Linked DNA regions of Homo sapiens: region 1 is linked to region 2. A link means that fine-mapping ties the variant in region 2 to the expression of a gene that starts in the linked region. Tissue or cell type: whole blood. Region 2 holds a variant in brackets; the other region holds the start of a gene. All regions are shown on one strand. Distances are from middle to middle.

The links. PIP is the estimated chance that this variant, and not a neighbour inherited with it, causes the effect.
Region 1: it holds the start of LINC01597, and the variant in region 2 is fine-mapped to the expression of LINC01597 in whole blood (TOPMed, PIP above 0.99).

The regions. Positions count from the first base shown.
Region 1 is chr20:30,284,979-30,287,746 of GRCh38, reverse strand. It overlaps LINC01597 (long intergenic non-protein coding RNA 1597), which reads left to right and starts at 1,210. Exons shown (of 2, transcript NR_145432.2): 1 at 1,210-1,307. LOC107985433 (putative uncharacterized protein LOC401522) reads left to right here. Exons shown (of 3, transcript NR_171672.1): 3 at 275-719.
Region 2 is chr20:30,413,073-30,415,840 of GRCh38, reverse strand. It overlaps the pseudogene FRG1BP. Among named protein-coding and RNA genes, the nearest start is that of FAM242A, 52 kb to the right of the region's middle. The variant G/A (reference allele first, on the strand shown) is at 1,152.

The DNA.
Region 1 (2,768 bases), 130 kb after region 2:
GCTGAGCACAGGGCGCAGGGCTAGGGCCCAGGTTTTGTGTTCAGGCCTGCGGCGAGGCAGCGGCCCTGGGCGATGGGGCGCCGGGCGGTCAGGCACCGGCTGGCGACTCCGCTAGGCCTCCGAAGCCCGGCCTGCAGACCCTTTCTCCCAACCTCTGTGCCTCGTGGGCTCTCTCCGCTCCGACGCCTGGTCGGGGCTTCCCTGTTGAGAGGGTTTTAGGCAGAAGGGCCAAACGACTCAAGCCAGACTCTGCTTTTTCATTTTTCTCCCTTAGGCCTCTCCACTTGCCCGAGCTCTCAGCCACCAGGAGACAGACGGAAGGGGCTTCTGGATTGCGTTGGGAGCGGGCACTGTCCCCTACCCACTCCTGCTCAGTTTCCCAAAGTCCAGCGACTTCCGACCCTCCTTGGGGGGAAAAATACCAGTACCCAGACACCTTTGCACCCTGTTATATGACTGGGCTTGCTTCAGGAATATCTTACAAAGAAGAAGAAGAAGAAAGAACGGCTTGGAGTCATGTTTACATCTAGTTCTACTGATCCGTTCACATCTGGAGAGTTTATTTATAACTCCCTCTATAACTCTCTGTTTGGAGACACTGTGGCTCTATTGACAGACTGATATCTAGGAAATATTGCTCTATGTCTAACCGTACCTAAATGTGCTGTGGTTGTATTTACAGATTTATGTTTGAGGGAAATATAACTATTTCCATTGTATTTGTGCATATACAGTAGTTATAGGAGCAGATTTATATATGGGAAAATATACGACTCTCTTACAGCCATCCAGCTTTATGTACATTTGATATCCTGACAGATTTATATCTCTGAACAGCTATATAGATAAAAACGTATATTGTTAGAATTATGTATCAGAAGATATATACTTATTGATTGTGAAATAGAGTAGTTAGAGCATTCATTTAGAGCCATATATGGCTATGGAGATATTGCTATATTATTATCACTATATATAGGCATATCTATTTATAACTACATAGTTATAAAAATACATATAAGTAATTACAGTCCTATATGTGCATGCTGCAATCTCTCTCTAGAGTTATAGACACTTTCAAATATAACTCTATAGAGAGATCTGTATGCATATAAGGTGTAATTATCTTGTGATGTGTTTACATTGGGACTTAGGCCCGTCTGTCTAGAACACACATATTTATATGTAGGGGCTGGGAGAGACTTGTTCATAGATATCTGCAGAGGGCCAACTGGAAACACTGTATCTGCCCTCTAGGAAACCAGCTAGGAGAGTTGTGTACTTACGGAGGGATGGAGTTACAAAAGGTAAATAGAGCTTAGTGAGCCTTAAGGAGGGGAGGTGAATGGAGGGTGGGTAGGTGGTGGGCTCCCCCAGGCGGAGACGGGGGAAGCAGCAGGGGCTCCCAGCCTCAGGCCTGCCCGGACGGTGTTGGTTGGAGTGAGTCTCCCCAAATGTCGTGCCGCCGTCCGTGATCTCGAGGACCGGTTGGCCTGCGTGCCCCTGGGCTGCTCTTTCACCCGAGGGTCGTTCTGGTTGACAGCAGAACCCCGCAGCCTCAGGGGTTGCCTGGTGGTGTGTGTTTCAATGCCTCTGCTGTATGACCCTTTGTTTGTGTGTGTGTGTGTCTCCCATTCTCCCTTCTCTCTCTGTCTCTCAGTCTCTGTGTGTTTCTTTCCCACTCTCTGTGGGTTTGTGTGTGTGTGCCCGTGTGCTTGTGTGTCTTTGGCTGAATATGCCCTGTGAACCACAGAGCTGTCTCTTGCATGGCGGCCTGTCTTTGTTGAACCTCTTTCTGTGTCTCTGCCTGGGTCATGAGGCCGGTTGTCAATCGTTTTCGCCCCCGCGGATCTGCTTTGGCTGCGTGAAAGCCTGGCCCACGTGAGAAGATGCGTCGGTCTTGGAGCAATTGCTGTCTCGTCCCCATCCTGAGCGTCCTCTTTTCTAGCATCAAGAGGAACACACTGCAGATGAGGACAAGAGCCCCACAGGAGCTCTTTGTCCCACAGGAGATCAGCGGACCCACGTCAGAGAAGATGTTTGAGTCTTTTCGCGGCTCTTCTCTGAGAAATGAAGCCACACCACGATACAGTCAGCAAGAGGAAGCCAGGAATGAGAGATGGCAACAATCCCTGTCCCTGGAACGCTGGCCTCCCTGCACAAGCCACCCTTTAGGAACCCCACCCCTTATGCCTGTGACGGTGGCAAGGTGCTGTATCCTGCCTGGGCTCCGGCCTCTGCTCTGTCCTCCCTCTTGCTCTGCCTCCCCTGTTTCTCAGGGACCTGGATGCCTCTCGCTCTGGCCAAATGCCTTCAACTAAGATGACTTCCCACTCCGTCAGGGAGACACTTCCTGGAGACCCGTGTCGTGATTGTTTGTCTCTCCAAATGTGTTTCTGCTTGATTGGGCAGGTCTCATGGCCCGGGAACACTTGGCTTCCATAGGTGTCTCAGGCAGGTGTCTTCTCCACGTTTCCCCTCATGGGTGGGTGGATTACCTAGAATGAGCGCTAGGCGACCGTGACTGGCCTTGTCTTCCACGACAGGTGGTGTCGCATTTCCTCTGCACTTCCTGTCTCATTCTTGAGGGACATCCTCTCCTCTGCTCCTGGGTGGACTGAACCCCTTGATCTTCTGGCCGAAACGAATGTAAGGGAAACAAAGGGACTGGTCTAGGGCTGGGGGCTGGGGCTGGGGCTCTGTGCAGCCGAAGTTGCGTCAGGGCTGCCAGGGCCTTGGAGGGTTGGGGTTGGGGCGAATTTTGCAGA
Region 2 (2,768 bases):
GCCGACTTCAAACTATACTAGAAGGCCATAGTCACCAAAACAGCATGGCACTGGTATAAAAATAGCCATATAGATCAATGGAACATAATAGAGAACACAGAAATAAAGCCAAATACTTACAGTCATCTAATCTTCAACAAAACAAACAAAAACATAAAGCAGAGAAAGAATACCCTATTCAACAAATGGTGCTGAGATAAATGGCAAGCCACACATAGAAGAATGAAAGTGGATGCTCATTTCTCACCCTATTCAAAAATCAACTCAAGATGGATCAAGGACTTAAATCTAATACCTGAAACCATAAAAATTCTAGAAGACGACATTGGAAAAACCCTTCTAGACATTGGCTTAGGCAAAGACTTCATGACCAATAACCCAAAAAGCAAATGCAACTAAAACAAAGATAAATAGATGAGACTTAATTAAACTAAAAGGCTCCTGAGCAGTAAGAGAAATAATCAGCAGAGTAAACAGATAACCTACAGAGTGGGAGAAAATCTTCGCAATCTGTACTTCTGATTAAAGGACTAATACCCAGAATCTGCAAGGAACTCAAACAAACCAGCAAGAAAAACATCCCATCAAAAAGTGGGCTAAGGACATGAACAGACAATTCTCAAAAGAAGATAAGCAACTGGCCAACAAACACATGAAAAAATGTTCAACATAACTAATTATCTGGGAAATGCAAATCAAAACCACAATACAATATGATACCCCTTCACTCCTGCAAGAATGGTCATAATCAAAAAATCAAAAATTAATAGATGTTGGCATGGATGTGGTAAAAAGGGAACACTTTTACACTTTTTGGAGGGAATGTAAGCTAGTACAACAGCTATGGAAAACAGTGAGGAAATTTCCAAAGAACTAAAAGCAGATCTATCATTTGATCCAGTAATTCCACTCCTGGGTATCTACTCAGAGGAAAATGTCATTATATGAAAAAGATACTTGCACACGCATGTTTATAGCAGCACAATATGCAATTGGAAGAATTTGAAACCAGCCTAAATGCACATCAATCAGTAAGTGGATAAAGAAAATGTGGTATAAATATTTACCACATGGAATACTACTCATTCTTAAGATGGAATGAAATAATGCATTCACAGCAACCCAGATGAAACTGGACACCATTATTCCAA[G/A]TGAAGCAACTTAGGAATGGAAAACCAAACATTGTATGTTCTCATTCATAAGTGAGAGCTAAGCTGTGAGGATGCACAGGTGTAAGAATGATACAATGGTCTTCGGGGACTCGGGGAAAGGCTGGGAGTGGTGGGGTGGGTGCAGTGAGGGATAAAACAGTACATATTGGGTACAATGTACAGTGCTTGGGTGATGGGTGCACCACAAATCTCAGAAATCGCCACTAAAGAACTTATTCCTGTAAGCAAACACCACCTGTTTCCCAAAAACCTATTGAAATTAAAAAAAAAAAAATCATATTCCCCAAAAACCTATTGAAATAAAAAAAATTAACCAAAATATTAGGTATTGGGTACAAGGGCCTTAATGAATGGGAGCACTGCAGTCACATTACAGCAATCCACTGTGAAACACCATTTATTCTTTGCAGGTTTAAGAACAGGCCAAATTCTACTGCTAAACGTTGAAGCAATGAAGATTATCACCCCTTCCCTAATTCATTTGGTTTTATATAATAAGTTTTATTTATTTGAAGTCGTGTTGTAATTTATGTTGAACCATATTTGCTAATTTATCAAGATGGGGAGGCTAGGCACGGTGACTCACACCTGTAATCCCAGCACTTTGGGAGGCCGAGGCAGGAGGATTGCTTGAGGCCAGAAGTTAGAGACCAGCCTAGGCAACATAGCAAGACTCCACTTCTATAAATTTTTTTAATTGGCTGTGTTGGTGCATGCCTGTAAACCCAGCTACTTGGAAGGTTAAAATGGGAGGATTGCTTGAGCCCAGGAGTTCAAGGCAGCAGTGAACTACGATTGTGCCACCACACTTCATTCAGCCTGGGTAATGAAGGAAGACCCCATCTCTAAAAAATGAAAAATTAAAAATAAATCAAATTAAAAAAAAAACAGGAGAGGGAGTTCTGTAAGGTTACATTTGGTGAAGTCAATGTGTAAGTGTAAATGATTTAATATCAATTTGTTACTCATTAGGTCAGAGCATCCAGGTCCCCTATGGACAAAGACTTCTATGACTACGGGAAATTTAGTCAAGGTAACAAATGTGAGGCATAAGTATGTGCCCTCTATTCTATATGCAGTTACTCTGCTAGGATTAGGGGATGCAATGTTTAAATTTAGTGAAATCTCAGGTATAACAAAGTTTGAGCTTCAGTATCGATTTAGTTTGTGAAGGTATGACAATTGGTAGATTTCAGCAGATGTTAAAATTGATTCAGAATATATGCTGGAGAGTTACAAATACCAATCAGCACCCTTTTATCTTTGGACTGTATAAATTGTTGTAGAAAATAGTACATTTCCAATTAGGTCAGATGATAGACTTCCGTATTAAATTTTGTTTTTGTGCATATCCAAGTTCCTTCCCTTCCTTCCTTCCTTCCATCTTTCCTTCCTTCCCTCTTTCCTTCCCTCTTTCCTTCCTTCCCTCCTTCCTGCCTTCCTTCCTTCCATCTTTCCATCCTTCCCTCTTTCCTTCCTTCCCTTCTTCCTTCCCTCCTTCCTGCCTTCCCTCCTTCCCTTTCCTTCCTTTTCTTCCTTCCCTCTCTCCTTCCTTCCCTCTCTCCTTCCTTCCTTCCCTCCCTCCCTCCTTCCCTC